Linked DNA regions of Homo sapiens: region 2 is linked to region 1. Evidence: fine-mapped expression QTL. A gene starts in region 1. The other region holds a variant in brackets. All regions are shown on one strand. Distances are from middle to middle. Region 1 holds the start of WBP4 (WW domain binding protein 4). Region 2 overlaps KBTBD6-DT (KBTBD6 divergent transcript).

Evidence for each region. PIP is the estimated chance that this variant, and not a neighbour inherited with it, causes the effect.
Region 2: its variant is the best candidate, but not a certain one, in a credible set for the expression of WBP4 in tibial artery (GTEx, PIP 0.55).

What each region holds. Positions count from the first base shown.
Region 1 is chr13:41,052,096-41,065,112 of GRCh38, reverse strand. It overlaps WBP4 (WW domain binding protein 4), which reads right to left and starts at 3,604. Exons shown (of 10, transcript NM_007187.5): 1 at 3,438-3,604; 2 at 2,397-2,469; 3 at 35-97. The coding sequence starts at 3,439. TRE-TTC1-2 (tRNA-Glu (anticodon TTC) 1-2) reads left to right here and starts at 4,304; the gene lies at 4,304-4,375. It also overlaps a transcript of ELF1 not described here. RefSeq lists a silencer at 4,810-4,989 and an enhancer at 11,425-11,474.
Region 2 is chr13:41,157,923-41,170,939 of GRCh38, reverse strand. It overlaps KBTBD6-DT (KBTBD6 divergent transcript), which reads right to left. Exons shown (of 4, transcript NR_120423.1): 3 at 8,537-8,677. It also overlaps the pseudogene CALM2P3. Among named protein-coding and RNA genes, the nearest start is that of KBTBD7, 30 kb to the left of the region's middle. The variant G/A (reference allele first, on the strand shown) is at 6,978.

The sequences.
Region 1 (13,017 bases):
ATAGAAAAATTAGCAAATAAACAATCTAAATTACCTCACTGATCCTTTTTGCCACATTTTCCTTATGATTCTTTCCTCTTTCATGAAATTCAACACTCTTGAAAATGAAAAGAGAAAATAACAAAAGAAAACTACATAAACATCATAAAATTCATAGTAAACATAATTTTCTCATAAACATGAGAAAATTAAAATTAAAATGAATGGCAGAAAAGATGAAAACATTAATTTAATGCAAATTGGCCCTTTTAATCAAATGATGCTAGGGAACTACATTGTTTATTATTATGTCCTCTGACTAGGTTTCCTTTGGTTCTTAAAATAAACCATGATGACCTTATTAATGGAGAAAAATACAAGGTACCCTTGATGACTAATCTAGTGACTATGATTGTAATGAGGACTCAAACGTGACATGAAGCCAAAAGACTGGGGAAAAAAATCTTAAACAACTTTCAACATCAAAAGCCTTTAGAATTTTATTGCTCTATTTGTCACAAGGAGGGACATAGAGAACAATGATTTTATTGCTTTATTCCTTAAATTTAGGAGAAAAGTATGTATTTTAAGATTCCTCGTAAATTATAAGCAAACACTTTTATACAATGTGGTAATGGTTCAAAATGTACAACTTCTATGGAGGATAATTTGGCAATATCTATCAAGACTACAAATACATTTACCCTTTGACACAGCAATTTCATTTCTGGTAATTTATTCTATAGATATACCTGCACATGTACAAAATCATGATATACACAAGCTTACTGACTGCAGCACTGTTTGCAATAACAATACGGTATCCATCTCTAAGGGACTGACTGGTTAAACTATGGTACATTCTCATAGTCTACTGTAACAGAGAGAAAGAAGCTCTTTATGTATGGATACAAAGGGAGCTCCAGTTACATACTGTTAAATTTTTTAAAACTAGTGCAGAATAATATATACAGTACATTACCTTTTATGTATGCTGGAATAAGAACTTGTGTCTACATGCATGTAGAAACAATGGAAGGATAGGCAAGAAAATGAAAAAAAAAAATGATAACCTATGGGGAGTGATGGCCACTAGATGACTGGGGACAGGGGCTGGTGAGTGAGCGCAATTATCTATTTAAACAATCAGAAATGCTCCCTAAATTACAAGTTTCTAGTTAAATGCAGTAAGAAATTCCTCACAAGCTCTGCAAAATAAGTTCTGTCAATCAAATCTTACATGATGCATTAACTGAGCTATTTTAAAATACTACCATGAATTCATCTTTAAAGTGTGACTTTGTAAAGCAGATAATCCTCCTGTTTTTCATACATTGCGTTTCCTAAAGTTGATTACACTACACAAAGAATACAATATTAAAGGACCATTCAAAATTAAATTAATTTTGTTTCTAATTAAAGGTTAAATCAATGTGTATTACCAACTCAAGAAGATAAAGACAGACTACACTGGAAGGGATTACTTACTCTAGATAACTCACAAAATTCATTTTACAGCCTAGGTACCTCCAAGAAAGAGAGACTTTAAGTGACCTGTGTGGTTTTAAAAATTCATGGTATTTATTTATAAGGATAGCCTAGGTAAAATAGTGAAGAACTTTAGCAACTATCCAAAAAGACCAAAACATCAAAAAAAAATCCAAATCCTAAACACCTTGCAGGTAACAGGAAATAAATGTCTACAGAAGAAATCCACAGCATTGTTAAAATATGAGACTACTATTCTTTGTGCATCCAACTTTGCCAAGTAAAAACGGTATCAACATAAAATATATTTAACAGATACCCTAGTGTTTATGTGGTATGTACATAGTATTTTGACATGCAAGAGGGGAGAAAAATCAGCGGTGTGCTTTTTGCTTTACATCTTCAAAACTGGATCTCAACTATGAGACAGACTAACAACATACCTAACAGAGTTGTTACTTTGTTTCATGAGAAAGGAAATAATGGTGTTCTTTCAAATTTAAGCATCTAAAGATACACAGCTCTGCATTAAATACACTTGATTATTTCTAGACCACAAAATATACAAGAAAAACTAAACATGTTGCTTTTATTTTTTAAGGGCTTTCCACAATTCTTTGGGTATGACAGTATTATGAACACCACCATTATAATATAGGTGCTTCATAACATGAATGATATGACCAACTCATTGCCCATTTCCCAAAAGGCCACAGAGAAATAATTTAATATATAATCAAAGTCAGGTTGATGAAAAGGAAGAAGGCTCACAGCTTTCATAGGGGACTGAGAAGACAGAAATCTTCTGATGTTTTGAAAATGCAAGAGCAATGTACATAAAAGTGCTTTGTAAACTGAGTTTACATCAAAAAGGAGCACTTCATTCAACACAATTATTATTAGAATCTCTAACAGCGGAATTATCATACAGGCCTATTGTCTGCTATCCAGCACTTGCAGTAATCACAGAATTTCTTTGGCTGTGACTTCCAGTAGTCCGCCCTGAAAAAGAGAGACAACAAGGCTAAGCTCATGTAAAACTTAAAAAAGGTTAAATTCTGCATGCTTTACAGTTTTTAAAGTTTGAAATATATGCCCCTGCTACTGAATCTTGTCTTGTTATGTATAGTCGTTTTATTATTTATCTGGTTGGAGCACAGTCAATTGAAATTCTGTTGCCAGCGGAGTAGAAAAAGTCTGTATCTGATTCATTACAAAACTCCCTTCAATAAAATGGCTTTCAAAAATTCCTCACTTGTTATCGTCATCGTTATGAAAAACTAAGGAACATCTTAGAAGAACATTTATCCTTTCTGGCTTTGGGGGAGGTTGCTGTAATGGAAACCTGAAGAAACTCATAAAGTTTGCCTTAAATCAAGTTATTCCCACCAAGAGAACAACGTACAAGACTACTCTGGGGAAAACTGTAGTTCCTCCCAGACTCTCAGTTAAAACAAACTGTTCTTGAGCCTCAAGGCAAGAGAGAACTGGAAAAGCCATGGGACTTCGTAGACGGCCGACAAAAAAAAAAAAAAAAAAAAAAAAAAAACCATTACGCTATCCAGGGCTGGCCGCTTCCAGTGGGCGGGGGAGGCCGCAGCCCAGCCCTAGTTTCACAATACCCTAGGGTTCAGGGGCTTCGGAAACCCAAGGGGTGCATGCGACCCCCGACAGCGTCGTAGAGAGAGCACTGCGTCGCTTCACCCGCGGCCGTCCAACCAGCCCCCTGAACCGGCCGCCGGCCTCCCCCTAGAGCCCGTGCCCCATACCCCAGGGCGTTCAGCGGGGTAACATTTCTACCCCGCCCTGAGAACCGGCCCTGCAGGTCTGGGGCCGGTCCCGAGCGAGTTAAGAACGCGTCTGTCACGCCCCCGGCCGAAGGGCGGGAGGAGAGGAGGGGAAGACCCGGGCGAGAAAGGGCGGCCCAGAGAAACAACACCTCGTTGTTCAGGGCCTGAGACCCAACTCACATGACTGCGCCAGCCGCTCTGCAAGTCGTCCAGGGTTCCACTCAGACTCGCGCTTTCCCAGCGGGACGAGTCGAGCTCTTCCAGCCGCCCGATGCCCACCCGAACCTCCCTCCGATCCAGACACCTTACTCAGTCCCCGGGACCAGCGTTCCGCTGTTCCCAACTACGGGTGCCCAGACGATCCAATCCGCGTTCGAAATCGCCTCCTCTCCCCTCCCCCTACAGGGGCGGTACTCCCGGCTCCAAAGAGGTGGGGTCGGTATAAAGGGGTTGAGGTCACCGGGAAGGGGTAAAAGCGCGACGGGACCTGAGCTGAAGGACGGGATCTCAAGCCTCAAGTCCCTGCGCCATCCCGCCGTCTCTGTGTCCTCCCCTGGGGCCCAAAACCTCCATCCTCCTTCTAGGCTCGCTGGCTCAAGGCCAAGGAGCTCAGCGCGCCGCCTCCGCCCGGAACGCAAACAGCTGTTCCCAGAGACGTCTCCGCTCTCAACTTTGCCAACTACTCCGCACGCACTTTGACCAGCGGAGCAACCGGGACCTGTGGGTCGGGGTCCTCTGGCGGAGTTAAAAAAAAAAGAGGTGAAACTGCGGGACCGGCGCTGCGAGTCGCTAGGCTTCGCCTCAAACTTTGCTGTTGCAGCGGAGCGGCCCCGCCCCTCCTCTCCCCTACGACGCCCACGCGCTCGGATGGGGCTTGTTCCCTAGCTCGGGAGCGTGTGGGCAGCAGCAGCGGCGGCGGCGGCGGCGGCGGCGGCGGCGGCAGCAGCAGCTTCAGTAGCGCAGAGGCGGCGGTGGCGAGAGGTGCGGCGAAGGAGGCAGAGGCACTTATGCTTGTCAGGTGGGTCACGGCAGTTTCTCATAGCACTTCCCATATGGTCTAGCGGTTAGGATTCCTGGTTTTCACCCAGGTGGCCCGGGTTCGACTCCCGGTATGGGAACGCTTCCTTATTTTTCTTTTTTTTTGCAACTATCGGTTTGGAGGGCTGACTTTTTAAATCTTGTGTTCTGGCTCCTTTCTTGTCCCCGTCTGGGTGAGTTTGTAGAAAATAAGCATTACTGTAGTTAGTGGCGCCAGGAGCTGGGCTGCGGCTTTTGGAGCCTCGAGTGCCACGCCGTGCCTGCTGGAGAAGCGAATGCGCTTCCGATCCTTCTCCCTCCCGCCTCCGGCTCACGGGGCTGGTGGGCCCTGAGGGAGTTTCACTTTCCCCTGGGCTGCTCCCCCGCCCCTCCGGCCCGTAGTTTTCCAGACGCCCGGGAGGTGATGATTAACTCCGGCCTTGCGTTATCTCCTCCCAGCGCCCCCGTCCGGCCCACACCCTCTTCAGCCGCTCTTGCGACTCTTCCTATGCAGGACGGGCTGACCCCCCTGCCCTGGGCGCCCCAGAGCCCGCGCCCGGACCAGTAGCTCTAGTGGTTCTCTGGCCGCAGGGTATTTACGAGGCCCCACGGAACACAGTGTGCCTTCCGCGCCCTCCCGGGGGGACGCGCTTTCCCGGCCGCGCAGCCGCCCGGCGCCCCTTTCCGCCGCGTGTGCGCTCGCGTCTCCACCCGCGGCGCCTGAGCAAGCGCGAGGCCGGCCTGCGAGGTCTTCCCAACTTGACTTAAGGGGCGCTGGTCGCAGTCACGGAAAGTACCCTCGAAAAAAGGCCTTTGGGAACGAGAATCTTTTTTCTTTCCCTTTAAAAATACACACCACGAGCTATGGAGGAGAAAAATACCACTCTGATGAGATGGCTTTAAATAAGTATATCGACTTTCCAAAGGGTCTAACATTTTGAGCGCGGTTGATTTAAAGAAAAAAATTGATTAAAACAACGGCAAAACATCCTGGGGTGGAGGTGGGGCTTGGGAAAGAGAAAATTGGCTGGAGACTGGGGAGGGGACGTTAAAACAAAGTTTCACTGTATTTTTAAATATAGAAGCCCTGTGTTTATTACAAAGAAGGGACAGCTGTGTCAGCAGCATGTGAGCTGTAAATGAAACAAAAGCGTTATCTTAAATGCAAGCTGAAATTAGAAAATAGGGTCGGCTATAATGTTTATTGGGCCTCTGGGAACAAACGAAGAAGGAAAAAGTGACTCTTGTAGATGGGTTTCTGGTCAGTGCCATTACTGAAAGCAGATGTTTTGGTTGTTAGTATGTGTGTTCCCAGACTATTTTGTAGCTTTAACTGCACAGTAAATTTGTTAATGTGATCTGCGTGATTAAGGATTAATTAGGCTTACCTTGTTAAAAAGAAAGAAAAAGCCTAAGTATTTTAAATCGTCTTCATTAATTCAAATATTTGTGTGTTTGCTACACACCAAGCACCACCACATGCTTTTGAAGTTACTGATGTTTGTATTCTTTATGTTAGCTAGTGGATAGAATACTGAATGGAATAATATTTTGGTCTTTGTGATTAGCTGTGTGATGAGACTTTTCACCTTCTCTGTTCTCTGGCTTTAGAGCCATACATTTTTGATAACACGTATCACTCACAAATTTTAAATAGAGTTACAAGAATTGTTGAGCGATTCCTGAATAGATAATGAAAGTGGAATTTTCATTTAAATAAGTAATAGTGTGTCATTATTAAGAAGCAGTTACTAAAGAATTACAGTAGTTGAAAATTTGGAAAGAAGGAAAGATAACTCGGATAACTCTGCCTTAATTGTCCCCAGAGAGGGCTTAACTTTTGACTTTTTCTTCTTTTTTTTGTTGAGACGGAGTCTCGCTCTGTTAACCCAGGCTGGAGGGCATTGGCGCGATCTCAGCTCACTGCAACCTCCGCCTCCCGGATTCAAGCTATTCTCGTGCCTCAGCCTCCCAAGTAGCTGGGACTACAGACACCCGCCACCACGCGTGGCCAATTTTTGTATTTTGAGTAAAGACAATGTTTCACCATGTTGGCCAGGCTGGTCTCGAACCCCTGACCTCAGGTGATCCACCCACCTCGGCCTCCCAAAGTGCTAGGATTACAGGCATGAGCCACCACGCCAGGCCTTGACCTTGTATTTTGTAATGAGTTTACAACATTGTACCAAATGGTGCTAAAATGGATGTTATTTTCAACTGTGCACTCAGTAATTGCAAATAGTTGTACTATATACCTGGGGGTGAACACAAAGGAAGTAGTTGCATCATCTCTGTATAAAACACAGATTTATCTTTCGTGTAGTTGTGCATTACGTAGAATATGGTAAGGCAACATCTGAGTTGTAGAAGTGCTACTGGAGTAACAGAGGTGAGGAATCGGTTCTGCTCAAGGGAGAGGACTGGAGAAGAGACCTAGAGGGGAGAGTGGACCTTGAAGAACTGATTGGATTTCTCCTGTTGGGGAATGTGAATCATAAAGCTGAGGTAGGGGGAACAAGTATGAGGCTGGCAAGTAGTCGGTTTGGCAGGAGCACAGAGTGCCTGCAGGGAGGGCCATGGGAGATCAAGCTGGGAATGTAGAAAGGAATTTTAACTTGATAAATTTTGACTAGGTAACAGGTTCTTTTATCAAGGAGTGACATTTTATGTCACAAAAATTTTTAAACCATTTCTGTCTCTTGGAAAACCCAAAGGTAGCAGTGGCATGTGAAAAATTCTTGTTTTAAAAGATTCAAACAATAAAGAAACATGTAGAATATTTTGTGTCCGTACATTTTATGTTTAGGAGTTGAATATTAATTTGTAATTAATAGAATGGAGAAAAGCAATCAGTTAATTAGAATTCACTTTATAGGAATGAAATCTAGGCTTAAAGTGTGAGAATAATCTGTCTTGCTTTGTTGAAAGTGACCTTGGTATTCGAAGACAGAGCTGCTCACTACTGTCAGTAAGACGTATATCTTAAATTGATTAAGGCTAGGTAATCAGTTTGTGAGGATTCATTCTTAACGCTTGTGCCATTGGCAGGCATATTTTAGGTGCTGTCTCTTGGGCCATAAATTAGTGACACTGAGTGCTGTGGATTTACCCAAATAACCTCTTTAATATTTGCTACTGTTAGGTGTAATTAGAAGATACATGAAAGAGGCAGGGTGTGGTGGCTTATGCTTGTAATCCTAGCACTTTGGGAGGCTGAGGCAGGTGGATCAACATGGCGAAATCCCATCTCTACCAAAAATACAAAAAATTAGCCAGGCGTGGTGGCACCCGCTGCACCTGTATCAGCTATTCAGGAGGCCAAGGTGGGAGGATCACTTGAGCCCTGGAGGCAGAGATTGCAGTAAGCCAGGATCTCAGGATCGTGCCACTGCACTCCAGCCTTGGAGACAGAGAGAGACTCCATCTCGGGGTGGGGGGAAAAAAAAGAGAAAAAGTGAGAGAGCCTGGACAACATAACAAGAGCCTGTCTCTACAAAAATAAAATTAAAAAAAAATTAGCCAGGTGTGATGCCACATGCCTGTAGTCCTAGCTACTTGCAAGCCTAAGGTGGGAGGATCCATTGAGCCCAGGAGTTCAAGGCTGCAGTGAGCTGTGATGTTGCCGCTACACTCCAGGTGACAGAGCAAGACCCTAAGACCTTATCTCTTAAAAAAAAAAAAAAAAAAGACGTGAAAGTTCAGTAAATGTTTGCAGAGATGAACGCTGGTATTTAAAGAAGTAGAAGGGATTTTAAAGCAATTACTGCATTTCAGCTAAAATCCGAAGACCTTATCATGGTCTCATAGGTCCAACATTATCTGGACTTTACCCATCTAACCTCAGGTCCTACCTTATCTACCACTTCACTGTATCTTGGCTACGTAGGCTTCCTTTTTGCCATGCCAAACTTATCCTTGTCTCGGAGTTTTGTTTCTTGCCTTTTTCCTTTGCCTGGAATATTCCCCCTGTAGCTCTGCACATCTCAGGTCAACATTACCTTCTCAGATCTTTTCTGACCACTTTAGCTTGAGACTTCCTCTTCCTTGGTTACTTTCTGGTTACTTTATGACATTTTTTTCATTTTCTTAGTATCTGAAATTAACCTGTTTATTTGTTTCTGTTTATTTCTTGTCTTAGTCTGTCAATATAAGTTCCCTGAAGGCAAGGATATCATATGAGATCGTTCTTGTTCTGTATGTAGTAAAGATTCAAACAATAGTAAAGAAGTTGGAACCCTTATACAGTGCTGCTGGAAATGTATAATGGTGCAGTTGCTTTGGAAAACAGTTTGGCAGTTCCTCAAAATGTTAAACAGTTACCATATGATCCAGTATTTCCACTCCTAGGTGTGTACCCAGTAGAAATGAAAACATGCCCACACCAAACCTTGTATACAAATGTTTATAGCAGCATTATTCATAAGCAAAAAGTAGAAACAACCTGAATGTCCCTCAACTGATGAGTGAATAGGTAAAATGTAGTGTATCCACACAGTGGAATATTTGGGAATAAAAAGGGATGAGGTACTCAATCACAAGAACATTACACTAAGGAGTCAGGCATGAAAGACCACATTTTTATTCCATTTATATGAAATATCCAAAATAGGCAAATCTATAGAGAAAGAGGGAAAATTAGTGGTTGCCTTGGATTAGAGGGGATAGGGAGGTTTGGGGTGAGGTGACTGCCAATGTGGATAGTAAATTTAGGGTGATTGAAAGTCCTGAAATAGATTACAGTGATAGTTCTATAACTCTATAAATGCACTAAATAATGTTGAAGTGTACACTTTAAATAGATAAACTTCATGATATGTAAGTTTTATCTCGACTAAACTCTTAAAAGGGATTGAAGCAATAAAAAGCATATAGAATATTTTCTCTCTTGATTTTACATTTATCATTTGGATATTACCTGTTTTAAAATAATAGCAGCCTGGGCAACATGGTGAAACTTCATCTCTACCAAAGAAAAAAAAAAACAAAAATTAGCTGGTGTGGTGGTGCGTTCCTGTAGTCCCAGCTCCTCAGGAGGCTGAGGTGGTAGGATTGCTTGAACCTGGGGGGTTGAGGCTGCAGTGAGCTATGATCGCACCACTGAACTCCAGCCTGGGCAACAGGGTGAGACCCTCTCTCTAGAAAATAAAAATTAAAATAATAATGGAATAATTTAATGGGGAAACTTCAGCTCCTAGTTAGTTCCACAAATGTGGTAAGTGCTTATTAAATAACTGATGGAGGAGGTTAGGTAAGTATACAGATAATTATGATACAATACATAGTTTGATAAATGCTCAGAGGGGACTAAGCCAGGGGTCATAAGTGTTTGATAGTGTTCAAAATCCATATCTGAGTTTGTGTGAGGGGAATGAGGAAAGGCCTCCTGTAGGAGGCAGCATTCGAGATAAGCTTTGAAGGCTGGTTAGGCTTTTGCTGGTAGAGACAGGGATGGGGACAAGGCATTGAGAGGAAGCAAGCAGGAGCAGAGGCATGTCAACAGTTACTAGCACATTTTAATGGAGCTGAGGGTGCAGGTAGGATAGGAATGGGAAATAAGGCTGCGAAAATAGATTAGGGTCTGTAGTGGACAATGTGTTTTTACTATCCTCCTGATGCCTAGTGTGCCTCCAATGGCTCATACTTAGGAAGAACGATACCTCTTACCTGCAGAGAGCTGGAAGTGTCTGGGGACATATCCTCCTCCCGCTCACAGACCACTGTCAGGAGTGTAACTTTGGAGCAGGGGCTTTGACTTGTTTCCCTCTGTATCATCAGACTTGAAGCAGGGCTTGGCACCTGGTAAACATTCAGAAAACATTTGAATGAATGAATGAAAATCAAGAAGTGGCAAGCAAGGTCTATTTAAAGCAAAGCAAAGTTTATTTTACGAAGCCCCTTGACAAGGAGATTTTGGAAGCCTCTTGGATTTGGAGCTAAGGAGTTTAGTTAGGAAAAGAGATTTCTGGTAATACGAGGAATGTTTTAATGAAATGAATTTGGTAGTAACGTGCAGGTTGAACTGGTGGATGGAAGGATTATGTCTGTGCTCCCCATCTCCACTGTCCCTTTCCTGTTCCCACTCCATTAGGCCTTGACAAAGGTCAAGGACTTCCCGCAGTCCAATAATAATCTCCTAACATCTCTCCTTGCTTCTACTCTCTCCCTAAATAGGGTGGTGGCAGCAGAATAGAAAGGATCAGATACAACAGATAACACTGAAGGAAAAAATCTACGACTTCAGAAAGTAAATATTTCTAAAAGAAATAGAGAAGTTATGAAGCACAGATTTTATTGCAGCGGACTGGCAGTTTTTACTCTTAGGGTTGGCCAGCTAGTAAATTTATTGCATACCTGCGTGTGTCTGTGGCTTTCGAACTCTGAAATTGTGCATTGACTCCATGAACAAGTTAATACTGTGAGACTGCCACCCTGTGGACAAAATATCAGGACTAAAACCATCAAGAATTAAAGTTTCATTCATTTGCGATTTACTGTTTTAGAACTGGCTTTGGTTCTTCCACGTTGGTGCATGCAGTGATGCTCATTAAATAGAAAGCTTGAAATTAATTTTTTCTCTGAATTTTTTCTGAGGCTTTTAAATAAAGGGAATCTAAAATGGAACCAGTAGTTTTAAAAAGCTGCAATGATTCAAGAGTGGTTTTTAGATGGTACTTCTTTGCTCTAGAAATTTCATATGGAAGGGTTGGTTTTTTAAAATATTGTGGCATGTAGGCCTGTTGTGAAATGGTCATTTATCCCTTTTGTTGTACTGATTTTTTTCATCCCATTTTATAAGACATATGGTATTATCCTTGAGAGTTATATTTTTTGAGAAATATATCAAACATCCCCCCACACCCTTTTTTGGCTAAGTGAAAGTGGCCTTCTTGCCTCGTTTTTTTGTGGATTTGGTTGTAGTTGTTAAAAGTTCTCTACGTTTTGGATGGATTGCCTTAATTGTATTTATACAAATGAGTTTGGTTTATATTACGCTACTTATTTAGAAGGACACTCTGCTCACAAATTATACTAGTTTGGTAGTTTCATAAACTAGCTTGAATCAAAATAAAATGGTGATTGTGAAATACTTATTTGCTCACTGCAACTCAGGAAATGTTTCAGTTTTGGACTCACGACCAAATAAAACTTTCCTAAGAGATGAGCTGTTTACAGCCAATAATGTTATAAATATCTTACACACTTGAATTCCCAGAGGTGTCAGAAGGGGTGGGGTAGCCATTTAGGGCTTGAAATTTGTGTCACCAGTAAAGCAGAAGTGGGTTGAAGCAGCCATCTGGGGTCAGCAATTGTGCCTTATTTAAGAAGGTGATATCCACACTGAGGAGAATGGATGAATCATTGATTGACCCCCTTGCCACTGATACTTCACCATAGAGACCTGGTACTTTACCATAAGGACCTTACGTTTTGGTAATGTACTAATGGTCAAATATAATGTTAATGATCTTAATTTTTTTTTTTTTTGAGACGGAGTCTCAGTCTGTCACCCAGGCTGGAGTGCAGTAGCATGATCTCGGCTCACTACAAGCTCTGCCTCCCGGGTTCAAGCAATTCTCATGCCTCAGCCTCATGAGTAGCTGGGATTCCAGGCGTGCACCACCATACCCGGCTAATTTTTGTATTTTTAGTAGAGATGGAATTTCACTGTATTGGCCAGGCTGGTCTGGAACTCTTGACCTCAAGTGATCCTCCTGCCTCAGCCTCCCAAAGTGCTGAGATTACAGGCGTGAGCCACAGTGCCTGGTGATTTTAATTATTTAAATATTTCTCTGAGTCAGTTCTGAAAAATGTAGTGTGACAAATGCAATAAACTTTAAGTGTTCGGTTTTATTTAACTTTTTCAAAGTAAATATATGGAGTTGTGGGTAACTTTTCAAAATTATTTTTTGCTAACACATATGTCTCACATTCTACAAACAGTGCTGTGTAATTGTAAGTGAAGTAGACTATGATGAAAGTGCACGTTTATGTAGGTTTACAAGGTAAATTGCCATATAATGTAGATCATTTAGATTAGGTTAGTATTATTTAGATACAGTTTAAGAAAAGTAGCTTACTTTCTTAAATTTATTTTTAAGTATTTACTCATTTATTTATTTATTGAGACAGGGAGTCTCTCTGTCTCCCAGGCTGGAGTGCTGTGTCATGATCATGGCTCACTGCAACCTCTAAATGCTGGGTTCAGGTGATCTTCCCGCCTTGGCTTTCTAAAGTGCTGGGATTACAGGCGTGAGCGACTGTGCCTGGCCAAGGAAGGTAACTTTCAAAATACTTGGTGATCTATTTACTCTTCACCTAGGTATTGAATGAAGAGTCAATAAACTTAAAGATATATTTGTTTTCTAGTCTTCTTTAATGGTTTTGCTATGATATCCTTTTTAAAATTGTAAATGACAATGAACTTACATAAATTTTTAGTTTAACATTTCACCAGCACTTAAGAGACTTTATCACACAATATCTTTCTACATTTTTATGCTATAATGGTTACTATTTCAGGATTAATGGAAGTGTTCACTCCTGAGTTCATTTCACAAATTTAAATACTAAAACATTTTGTTCTTTGAAAAGTAATTCTGGCCAGGCGCAGTGTCTCACGCCTATAATCCCAGCACTTGGGGAGGCTGAGGTGGGCAGATCACTTGAGGTCAGGAGTTCAAGACCAGCCTGGCCAATGTGATGAAACCTCGTCTCTACTAAAAATACAAAAATTAGCTGGGCA
Region 2 (13,017 bases), 110 kb before region 1:
ACAATGATGGCAAGAAAAATGAAAGACACAGACAGTGAAGAAGAAATTAGAGATGCATTCTGTGTGTTTGATAAGGATGGCAATGGCTATATTAGTGCAACAGAACTTCACCATGTGATGACAAACCTTGGAGAGAATTTAACAGATGACGAGGTTGATGAAATGATCAGGTAACCACATATTGATGGTGATGGTCAAATGATCTATGAAGAGTTTGTACAAATGATGACAGCAAAGTGAACAACTTGTACAGAATGTGTTAAATTTCTTGTACAAAATTGTTTATTTGCCTTTTCTTTGTTTGTAACTTATCTGTAAAAGGTTTCTCCCTACTGTCTAAAAAATATGCATGGGGTGGGGCTCGGTGGCTCACGCCTGTAATCCCAGCACTTTGGGAGGCTGAGGTGGGCGGATCACGAGGTCAGGAGTTCGAGACCAGCCTGGCCAATATGGTGAAAGCCCATCTCTACTAAAAATACAAAAACTAGCCGGGCATGGTAGTGGGCACCTGTAGTCCCAGCTACTCAGGAGGCTGAGACAGGAGAATCGCTTGAACCCAGGAGGCGGAGGTTGCAATGAGCCGAGATCACACCACTGCACTCCAGCCTAGGAAACAGAGCAAGACTCCATCTCAAAAAAAAATTTAAAAATAGATAAATAAATAAATAAAAGCAAAAAAAAAAAACCTACTAGGGTAGAGATGACAGAGAGAGATAATACATGTTAATGAAAAATTCAATTGACAAGGAAAACTTAATGATCTCAAATGTGTATAAACCAAAAAACAGTCTTAAAATACATGAAGCAAAACTGATAGACTTAAAAGGAAAAACAGACAACTCCACAATTATTATTGGAAAATGCAACATGATCTTTCAGCAAGTGACAAAGCTACTGACAGTAAATTAGCGAGAATATAGAAGATCTGACTAATATAATCAACCAATCATGGAGTGACACATCACTCCACCCAATAAGCAGAGTACACTTTTTTTTCAATTGTTCATGGAAGATTCATCAAGATAGACCATGTCCTGAGCCATACAACAACTTCAACAAATGCAAAATAAATGAAAGTATACGTAGCATGTTTCCTGACAATATTGGAATCAAACAGATAATCAATAACGAAGACAACAGGAAACTCTCTAAACACAGAGAAATTGAACAACATAAATTTTAAATCATTGCTGGGACAAAGAGGAAAATCTCAAGTTAAAAATGAAACTTAAGGAATATGAAAATACAACATACCAAAACATGTTGGATACAGCTAAAGGATTTTTGAGAGCAAAACTGTAGCATTAAATGTTTACATTAAACATGAGAAAAGGACTCAAGTCAATCTAAGCTCCTACCATAAGGCACTAGAGAAAGCAGAGGAAAATAAACCCAAAGCAATCAAGAAGAAGGAGGTCAGGCTTGGTGGCTCACACCTATTATCCCAGCACTTAGGAAAGCCAAGGCAGGGAGGATCACTTGAGCCAGGATTTCAAGACCAGCTTGGGCAGCATAGCGAGACCTCATTTCTACAAAACATTTTAAAAATTAGGCATGGTGGTGTGTCCTGTAGTCCCAGCTACTCTGAGATAGGAGAACTGCTTGAGCCCAGGAGTTCAAGACTGCAGTGAGCTATGATCGCACCACTGCACTCCGGCCTGGGTGACAGAGTGAGAGTCTCTCTTTCTTAAAAAAAAGGAAGGAAATAATATAGAGATCAGAACAATAATTAATAAAATTAGAAATAAGAAATAGCAGAGAAGAAAATTTAATGAAGTAAAAGACGATTTCTTTCTTTTTTTTCTTTTCTTTTTTTTTTTTGAGACGGAGTCTCACTGTGTCGCCCAGACTGGAATGGAGTGGCACGATCTTGGCTCACTGCAAGCTCCGCCTCCCAGGGTCACACCATTCTCCTGCCTCAGCCTCCCGAGTAGCTGGGACTACAGGCGCCCGCCACCATGCCTGGCTAATTTTTTGTATTTTTAGTAGAGACGGGGTTTCACCGTGTTAGCCAGGATGGTCTTGATCTCCTGACCTCGTTATCTGCCTGCCTCGGCCTCCCAAAGTGCTGGAATTACAGGCATGAGCCACCGCACCCGGCCTGTTTCTTTTTTAAATCAATAAAATGTACAAACTTCTTTCAAGAGTCACAAAAATTAAGAGAAAACAGATATCACCAATATGAGGAATAAAACAGGGGATGTCACTTCATATCCTGTAGCCACTAAGATAATAAGAAAATATTACACAAAGTTTTATACTCTAAAACAGTTTTTTTACTGAAAACTTAGAAGTAATGAAGCCTTTTGAGGAACCACAAACTACCAAACACAACCAAGATGAAATAGATAATTTAGGTAGCCCTATATTAACCATTAAAGAAACTGAATTTATTTTAAAAAATCTCCTAAAAAATCCCAGGCCCAGATGGTTTCACTGCAGAATTCTACAAAACATTCAAAGAGATAACAATGCATTTTCACAATCTTTTCCAGAAAGAAAGAACAGTCCCCAACTCACTGTGAGGCTAGTATCACCCAAATATCAAAACCAGTACAAAAAAATAAAAACAACAACAAAAAAACAAAAAACTACATACCAATAGCTTTCATGAACATAGATTCAAAGGTCCTCCACAAAATATTAGCAAACTGAATAAAATAACAAAACATTACGCACTGTGACTATCTTAATTCAGGCTGCTGTACAAGAATATCAAATGTTGGGTGGCATAAAGAACAAACATTTATTTCTCATAGTTCTGGAGGTTGGGAAATTCAAGATCAAAGTGTTAGAAGTTCCAGTGTCTGGGGAGGGCACTCTTCTGGGTTTACAGATCACCCTCTTCTCACTGTATCCTCTCATGGCTGAAAGAGATATAAACTCTCTCATGTTTTGTCTTATAAGGGCACTATTCCCATTCATGAGGGCTCCACCCTCATGACCTCCCAAAGGTCCTACCTCCTAACACCGGGGAGTTAGAGTTTCGCATATAAATTTTGAGGGGACACAAACATGCAGTTCATAGCCTTGACCAATAGGGATTTATTCCAGGCATCCAAGGCTAGTTCAACATTTGAGAAATCTATGTAATCCACCAGATCAACAAGCTAAAAAGTCATATGATCATATCAATTGACACAGATAAAGCATGTAACAAATTCCAACACACATTCATGGTTTTTAAAAAAGGGCGGGGTGCTGGCTGGGTGCAGTGGCTCACGCCTGTAATCCCAGAACTTTGGGAGGCCGAGGCGGGTGGATCACTTGAGGTCAGGAGTTTGAGACCAGCCTGGCCAACATGGTAAAACCCCATCTCTACTAAAAATACAAAAATTAGCTGGGTGTGGTGGTGTATGCCTGTAGTCCCAGCTACTCGGGAGGTTGAGGCAGAAGAATCGCTTGAACCCAGGAGGCAGAGGTTGCAGTCAGCCGAGATCACACCACTGCACTCCAGCCTGGGAAACAGAGCAAGACTTTGTCAAAAAAAAAAAAAAAAGAAAGAAAGAAAGAAAGAAAGAAAAGGGTGTGGTGGGGGGTGGGCATGGTGGCTCATGCCTGCAGTGGCCCAATCTCGGCTCTCTGCAGCCTCTGACCGCCAGGTTTCAGCAATTCTCCTGCCTCGGCCTCCCGAGTAGCTGGGATTACAGGCACGTGCCACCACACCCATCTAATTTTTTTATTTTTAGTAGAGATGGGGTTTCACCATGTTGGCCAGGCTGGTCTCAAACTCCTGACCTCATGATCTGCCCGCCTCGGCCTCTCAAAGTGCTGGGATTACAGGCGTGAGCCACTGAGTCCGGCCTCCTATATCTTTATTTTCTAATTTCTTCTTTTTTTTTTAGACAGGTTCTCAATCTGTCAGCCAGGCCAGAGTGCAGTAGCACAATCACAGCTCACTGCAGCCTCAAACCCCTGGGCTCAAGTGATCCTCTGACCTCAGCCTCCCAAGTAGCTGGGACTACAGGTACACACAACCATGTTCTGCTAATTTTTTTTTTTTTTTGTAGAAATGGGGGTGTTGCTATGTTGCCCAGGCTGGACTTGAACTCCTGGCCTCAAGTGATCCTCCTGCTTTGGCCTCCCAAATTACTGGGATTGCAGTTGTGAGCCCAGTCTGTACCCTATTGCTTCCTATGTTCTTTGAGAGACAAATGTAGAAAACAGTAATTATAAAGTATGCTAATGGGTACACAATGTATAAAAGATGCAATTTGTGACAATAACAAAGCTGTATAGGAATAGATTTTGTGTATGCTACTAAAACTTAGTTGATACCAACTCAAACTGTATTTTTATATATTTAGGGTGTTTTTTGTAATCACCAGAGTACTCACAAAAAAATAATTAAAATATATACAGAAAAGACACTGAGGAAGGAATCAGAATGGTACACTTTAAAAAACACGAAAGACACAAACACAAAAGACAGTATTTGGGGAGCAAAAAGTATATGAAACTTGTAGAAAACAATAGCAAATGATAGAAATAATTGCTTTCTTATCAGTCATCACTTTAAATGTTAAAAAATTAAACTCACCATTAAAAGGCAGAGATTGGCAGAATGGATTCAAAAAATACATTTTGAGTTCAAAGAGACAAATATGTTGAAAGTAAAATATATTGAAATAAAATATATTGAAAGTAAAATAATGGAAAAAGATATTCCATACAAATGGTAACAAAAGGAGAACTGGGGTGGCTATGCTAATATCAGTCCAAATAGACTTTAAAATGAGGGATATTATTATATATTCATAAAAGGGTCAATTCACTACCAAGATGTAACAATTATAAATATATATTCACCAAACAGCAGAGCCCCATAATATGTGAAGAAAACGTTAACAGAAATAAAGGAGAACTAGTTCTACAATAATTATTGGAGATTTTAATAACCCACTTTCAATAATAGATAGAACAAAACAAAAAAAAGAGAAAAATAAAAATAACAGAACATCTAAATAGCACATGAATAAGTAAGTAGAGGACTTGAACACTGTAAATCAACTAGACCTACTAGACACATATAGAACACTCTACCAGCAGAGCAGAGTCCTCACTGTTCTCATACATGGAACATTCTACAGAATAGATCATACTTTAGGCCACAAAATAACGATAAATACATTTAAAATACTTAAATCATAGAAAGTATCTTCTCTGACCACGATGAAGGGAAGCTAGAAATCAATAACCAAAGGAAAATGGAAAATTCACAAATGTATGGAAATTAAACAACACACTCTTAAACAACCAATGGATCAAAGAAAAAAATCAACAAGGGAAATATGAAAGTACTATATAAATTAAATGCAAAACACAACCTACCAAAACTTACAGGATGCAGCAAAAGTAGTGCTCATAGGGAAATCATAGTTGCAACTGCCTACATTAAAAAAGAAGAAAGAGCACAAATCAATAACCTAACCCTATTCCTTAAAGAACAGGGGAAAAAGAAGAGTAAACTAAGGACAAAACTGGTAGAAAGAACAGTCTCTTCAATAAAAGGTACAGGACAACTGGATATGCACATGCAAAAGAATGGAATTAGACCCCCATCTCATACCATATACAAAAATTAAGTTGCAATGATTGGCCAATGACCTAAATATAAGAACTAAAACTATAAACTCTCAGAAGAGTTAGGGGTAAATCTTCATAACTTTGAATTTGGCCATGGAGTCTTAGATGTGACACTGAAAACACAAGCAACAAAATAAAAAATAAACTGGACTTTCTCAAAATTAAAAACTTCTGTTTGTCAAAGGATATTCTCAAGAAAGTAAAAAGACAACAACAGAATGGAAGAACATATTTGCAAATTATATATCTCATAAGGGTCTAACATCCAGAATATGTAAAGAATTCTTACAACTCAACAACAAAAAGACAACCCAACTTAAAAATGGGCAAAGGACTTAGACATTTTTCCAAAGATGATAAACAAATGGACAACAAGTACATGAAAAGATGCTCAAGATCATTAGTCATTGGGGAAATGCAAATCAAAACCACAATGAAATACAGCTTCATACCCACTAGAAATGGGTATAATTATACAACTATGGCTACTAAAAAGGATGAGATGGGGAAATAGCAAGTGTTGGTGAAGATGTCGAGAAATTCAAACCTTTGTACATTCCTGGTGGGAACGTAAAATGGTTCAGCCTCTAAGGAAAACAATTTGTTAATTCCTCAGTAAATTACATATAGAATTACCATATAACCCAGCAATGTCACTTCTAAGTATATATCCCAAAGAATTGGCAACAGGTATTTTAACAAATACTTGTACACGAATTAATGTTCATAGCAGCCCTATTTGCAATAGCCAAAAGGAGGTGGAAACATCCCAAGTGTCCATCAATTGATGAGTGAAAAAAACCAAAATGTGGCATATTTATTCAATAGAATATTATTCAGCCATAAAAAGGAATGAAGTACTGATACACTCTACAACAAGGATTAACCTCAAAGGCAAATAAAATGTTCACTTCAAAATTGTTAATTTTACATTATGTGAAATTCACCTCAATCACCAATTCCACACAGTGGAATTTCACAGTGAGCAAGCCTATGCAAACCAACCACTAAATTCCAAGGAAGCGGAGAATTCAAAGAAAGAGGCTTACATATCCAGTTTCTCAGGAAGAAACTTTCCTTCCTTCCTTCCTTCCTCCCTTCCTTCCTTTTCTTTTTCTCCTTCTCCTTCTCCTTCTTCTCTCTCTCTCTCTCTTTCTTGTTTTTTGAGACAGAGTCTCACTCTGTCACCAGGCTGGAGTGCAGTGGCATGATCTCAGCTCACTGCAACCTCCAATTCCCTAGTTCAAGCAATTCTCCTGCCTCAGCCTCCTGAGTAGCTGGGATTACAGGCATGCGCCACCACGCCCCGCTAATTTTTGTATTTTTTGTAGAGACAGGGTTGCACCATGTTGGCCAGGATGGTCTCGATCTCCTGACCTCGTGATCCGCCC[G/A]CCTCGGCCTCCCAAAGTGCTGGGATTACAGGCGTGAGCCACCATGCTCGGCCTCTTCTCTTGTCTTGTCTTCTCTTCTCTCTCTCTTTCTCTCTCTCTTTCCCTCTTTCTTTCCCTCCCTCCCTCCCTTCCTTCCCTCCTTCCTTCCCTCCTTCCTTCCTCTCTCTCTTTCCTTTCTCTCTCTCTTTCCTTCCAGACAGGCTCTCACTGTGTCACCTAGGCTGAAGTGCAGTGGCATGATCACAGCTCACTGCACCCTTGAACTCCTGGCTCAAGCAATCCTCATGCCTCAGCCTCTGTAGCTAGGACTAGAGACATGTGTCTCCATGCCCAGCTAACTTTTTTGTGTTTTGTAAAGGGAGGAGGGGGGTCTCACTATGTTGCTCAGGCTGGTCTTGAACTCTTGGCCTCAAGTGTTCCTCCTACTTTGCCTCCCAAAGTGCTGGGATTATAGGTGTGAGCCACTGCACCTGACAGAAACATTTAATAGTGACTTATGAATAGAAACCATGTCTGTGTCTCAGGTAGTGTGGAGACAGGTTGGTGGATCCCCACGCCATTACACCCAGAACCAAGGCCTATATACCATGGGGAAAGGGTATATGTGATACAGAAGTGATGTGTAGGAAAATTATTCAAGGGCAGGACTTAAGGTAAGTACATGATCTTACACAAGGAACAGTAAGCAAAATAAATAATTAAAAAAAAACCTTAGAGGCCTTTTTGGAAATGGGGTTAATCAGAACTCAATATGGCAGATCAACATCCAAGATGGAGTTGCTTTAGCCCCCACACTCCATCCCTCTTAATCTCACACACCCTCCTCTTCTGGGCCTTTAGGGAAAGTGCTTGACATTGCACAACTTTAGCAGCAGTGGGTTGGCAGGGAAAACAGATCAGACCCAGTAGCATTCCAAATTAGGGAGATTCACAGGCTTTGGTTTGTCATCTCTAGTCATTGGAATACCGTGACTTTGGTTTTCTTGGAAGAAGTAAAAGTAGAGATATATAACATTAATAATTTGAATAGTAGAAATATAATGCACACAAGGATTATAATAAAAAAGGGCATGAAGACAATTAAATCTCGGTTTTTCTTTAGAAATTTGTAGCCAGGAAATAATTCAGGATTCAGTTTGAATTATAGGCAAATAATAAAACTCAGAAACAATCATTAAGGCTACAGTCTAATAATGAGCATACTATAGTTTTCTTCTGAAACATAGTTTTTCTCAACAGTTTTCCCATTTCTACTAAGGATAAATCAAAGTAGGGCCAATTTACTTGTGAAATAAATTTAGTCTCATTAACTTGACCTGACTATTTGCATAAAGTGCAGGGATTGGCCATATTGGCTCCTTTTAAGATGGCTTCACTGGGACACTTTTCATAAGGAATCTCAGATTAGACTTCTATAAGCCCTGAGGCTAACCAAGTCAAGGATTCGCTATCCGATTGTGCCTGTCATACCTGTATGAATGGGTGTATTCCTCTCTTCTTGAGGCCCAAAAATAACTTGAGGTTCCTGGGCCTGCCAGAAAGTGACATTTTTTACTTACCAGAGGTAGGCTGGCCTTTCTGTGGGGGTTTTATCAGCTCTGCAACATCAGCCTCATTTCCTCAAAGCAATGTGGTCATATCTGAAAATATGCCATTCCAGTCAAGGCCTTGATAGAAGAACCTGTGTCTCCAATTGTGTCCTGTTACAAAAGAAAACAGATTCTTACTGAACTTATGCAAATAACTGTATTCCCATGTCATACGAATATATGAATAGTTTCCAGTTTTGGAGATATCAGGTAGAGAGACAGGTAAATTTTGTTCACAATAGTATACTTTACAATTAGAGTAGCAGCCTTCCAAACAGGATATTGTCCTTTCACCTTGGAACTGCCATCCACAAACCAAGCAGCTCTTTGTCAGTCAGGTGAGAGCTGTTTATTGGGCACTGTAGAATCCAGCAGCCCCTCACACAGTTTCAGAGTGACTCCTAGGGAAAAAGAGACTCCCTGCTCCTATCTCCTCCTTGCATCCTTCAAATAGCAGGATACTACACAAATCATTCCCATTTTATTGGTGGGACCCTTTTGGGTGCTGCTATCCTCATTAGAGTGTTTCTCTGACATTCAGACATTACTATTTCAGGTGTCAAGGCCATTTTATGCCCTTCAATCATAGCAGTAGCTTCAGCTAACATCCAATTACAAGGCAGCAAATACCCCCAAATGAAAATTCTCTAGTGAAGGTGCTCATAGACTTTTGCCATAAGCCCCAATAAAAATTCTACAAGGAGCTATCCAGTGGATAATTTGTTCCCTACCAGCACTTCAGCTTCTACTCTATACTTTGTGGGCTTGGTCAGTCTTACTGGTTCCCACTGAGCATGTCCAATTAGTATTGCTCAAAGGGAAGATTTACATGCTTTCTAGTTCACAGTACTAGGAAGGGGAATCATCCTCCAGTCATATACAATGTCCATTCCCAGAAAACATTTAGGTAAAGGAGACACAGCTACTTTACATAAAGCCTGTTCAAACATTTTAACTCTTAAAATCCTATTGACCCTTACATTTTATGTTGTAGTCCCAGGAAACTTTTTCTCCACCCTAGACCATTTTACCCTTTCTTGTGAAAAAGGATCTGAGTTCCCAACAGGGAGCTGAGCCAAGGCACTTGGGCTCATTGGTCAATCCTTATCTTGATTAACTGCCTCAACATTGCCCCAATTTTTGGTCAGCTTTCTCACTGTAATCTTTACCTTCTGATTTTTTTTCTTAAATTTCACAAATCTGGGGCAAATACAGAAAACTGATTTGGGCTCTATAATGTTTGTAGACAGGCAGGGCTCCCTCTTTGATAGTGTTGTATTAAGACCTTTGTTTTAACCCCATCAATTTGTTTTATTTATCCCATTTTTAATAACTATTTAAACATGTTTACCCTGCTGGGATGAGTCCCATGACTCTCCCCTTTCTTTTTCCTTTTAGTTTCACCCTTATCAATGCTCTCTGTATTCTTTTTTTTTTTTTTTTTTCTGACATGGAGTCTTGCTCTTGTCACCCAGGCTGGAGTGCAATGACGTGATCTTGGCTCGCTGCAACCTCCACCGCCCGGGTTCAAGCGATTCTCCTGCCTCAGCCTCCTGAGTAGCTGGGATTACAGGCGCCTGTCACCACGCCCAGCTAATTTTTGTATTTTTGTAGAGACATGGTTTCGCCATGTTGGCCAGGCTGGTCTCTAACTCCTGACCTCGTGATCCACCTGCCTCAGCCTCCCAAAGTGCTGGGATTACAGGCGTGAGCCACTGTGCCCAGACTATTCATCTTATTTCTTAATAAACATTTAAAAATTTACACCCTTCTGGGAGGAGTCTTTTGACTCTCTGCTCTAACCTTCACCATGTTCTTGTTAATTAACCTAACTTTTAAAATTAATACCTGTAAGACCCATCAAGGAAAGCTGAGACAACAAGTTTGATAAGGCTTCTAGGACTCTTGTTCCATTTTTCAGGAGTGATGTCATTACATGTGGTACCTTTCATGCGTGTCCGTGTGAAGAGACCACCAAACAGGCTTTGTGTGAGCAACATGGCTGTTTATTTCACCTGGGTGCAGGCGGGCTGAGTCCGAAAAGAGAGTCATCGAAGGGAGATAAGGGTGGGGCCGTTTTATAGGATTTGGGTAGGTAAAGGAAAATTACAGTCAAAGGGGGTTTGTTGTCTGGCGGGTAGGAGTGGGGTTCGCAAGGTGCTCAGTGGGCAGGAGTGGGGGTCGCAAGGTGCTCAGTGGGGGTGCTTTTTGAGCCAGGATGAGCCAGGAAAAGGACTTTCACAAGGTAATGTCATCAGTTAAGGCAAGGACCGGCCATTTACACTTCTTTTGTGGTGGAATGTCATCAGTTAAGGTGGGGCAAGGCATATTCACTTCTTTTGTGATTCTTCAGTTACTTCAGGCCATCTGGGCGTATACATGCAAGTCACAGGGGATGCGATGGCTTGGCTTGGGCTCAGAGGCCTGACAGTACCCGTGTAGAAGGGGTCCCCTTAACCACAGCATTTACCATAACCTGGGTAACAGGCATATTCAGTGGGTGAATATACTGGTCCTCATAAAGCCAATCCCACATGGCTTGCACATGCTTCATCTGAATTACCCAACTTGGTATTTACAGGGGGAGTTGAACAGACCCCCTTTTCGGGGTAAAAAGATCTTACAGTGGCTTTTATCCAGTCCACCAGCCCAGTTCTTCTCTCAGGAATAACCTATGTGTCTGGATCATATATATGAATCTGCAATTGTTCTATAGTGACCTGTGGGTCCTGCATCACCCAAACATGTTTTTCCACTGTGCAGCATTTCAAACCAAAGCCACTGCTTCCAAATTAGTTACTCTCATAATCCATTTTGGTAAAAGTTCCTCAGGGAGCTGCTGATACTGTTGTACAAAATGGAATGATTCCTTCATACTATACCCTATGGTTTCAACTGTTGCTTGCTTTTGCCCTTCTGCCACATTGACTACCCACAAGTATCAAAGGTACTTTCTGTTGTGCTGGCATACTTTTTCTCCCTTGTGGGTAGATTTGAGGCTAAGAATCTGAGCTCAGACAGACCCATATCTGAGGTTGGTCCAGGCTCAAGCCCCAACCAGGCACTCTCTTTTACTTTCATTTTAGCTTTTATAGATAACAATAACTAAAAGGAAAATAAAATCTTAAGTCCCCCAAATCACAATGCCAAAGGTAAACATAAAGCTTGGGAACAGATTCATGCAAAAATGGCCTTCCTTTTGTTCCTAAACAGAAAGCTGCAATGATAGAAGGCCACATCTCTCTCCAGGTAGCCTCCCTCACAAATTTCTCTCAAGGAAATTCCTTGTGGGCCCCCAAATCTGTCAGAATAAATATCCCTTCAATAACCCTAAAACCCTCAATGCCACACGAAGCACCTAAAAAAAAAGTATCAAGTATCATAGGATAGAACATGGGCCTAGAACCCCTATATGCTCACTGTTCAAGCTGGCCCTGCAGACTGGTCAGTTCTGCAGTTCGGACTATACCAAGTACCTGTTAAGACAAATTTTGCTGTGGGCCCCTGAAATAAAATTGGATGAGGTTTCCTTCTCATTTTGTTTTATGTCCTTGAAAGCTTGACTTTCTTACCAAGTGGGAGTACTCTCTTAGTCTCCACTATCTGGAGGGCAGGAATTTTCAGGTTCACATCAGGAAGCCAGTCTGCAAAGACTGGGAATCCAAGACATCTAATATTTTAAGCAGTACACTTTTTGTTCCAAATGTGTCAACTTCTTAGGGAAGTTTTTTCTTAAAAGATCTCATCCCTATGGGGTTTTTGTCATCTTTTGCTATCTTAAATCTATTTCTAAGAGTGAATTTTTAGGGATCATGGGGACTGCCTCCCTTCTGCCCTCTCCAGGAATGTAAAAACTTTTTCTAAACCTAGAAAATTATGACCTGGGCTTTACAGAGAGATTTTTGGATTGAGTTGCTAGGGAAAACCAAATTTTAAAAAGGACACATAATAGTGTAATGGCTAGTCTTGAGAATTCGGTTGAGCAAAATCTAACATAAAAAAAGCTTAAAATCTTTGAAAGCTCAAAATTGCTTTAGATTCCCTCTAGGAAAAACAATGGACACCACCCCATGATGTAGTTCAGTAGCTAAGGTTCTTCCCTTTTCACCTTGGTGACCTGGGTTTGTTTTCCGGCCAGAGAATGAGTCCTTTCTGGTTTGATATTTGTATGACTTTTCAAATACCAGCTGTTTGTTATGGCAAAAATCTGGTGATAAGAGTTTCAAAGTTGTGTTTTTTTGTTTGTTTGTTTTTTGTTTTTTTAAAAAGAGCTCAATAGTCAAAAGTAGACTTAACTAAAACTGATATCTAGGGTATATATGTATACACACACACACACACACACACACACACACACACACACACACTAGTTTTAAGCCTCTGTTCTCTCTTTGTAAAAACTTTTTGTCAGCTAAATTGTTTCTCCGTTTACTTCTGCCTGTCCCTCCTTT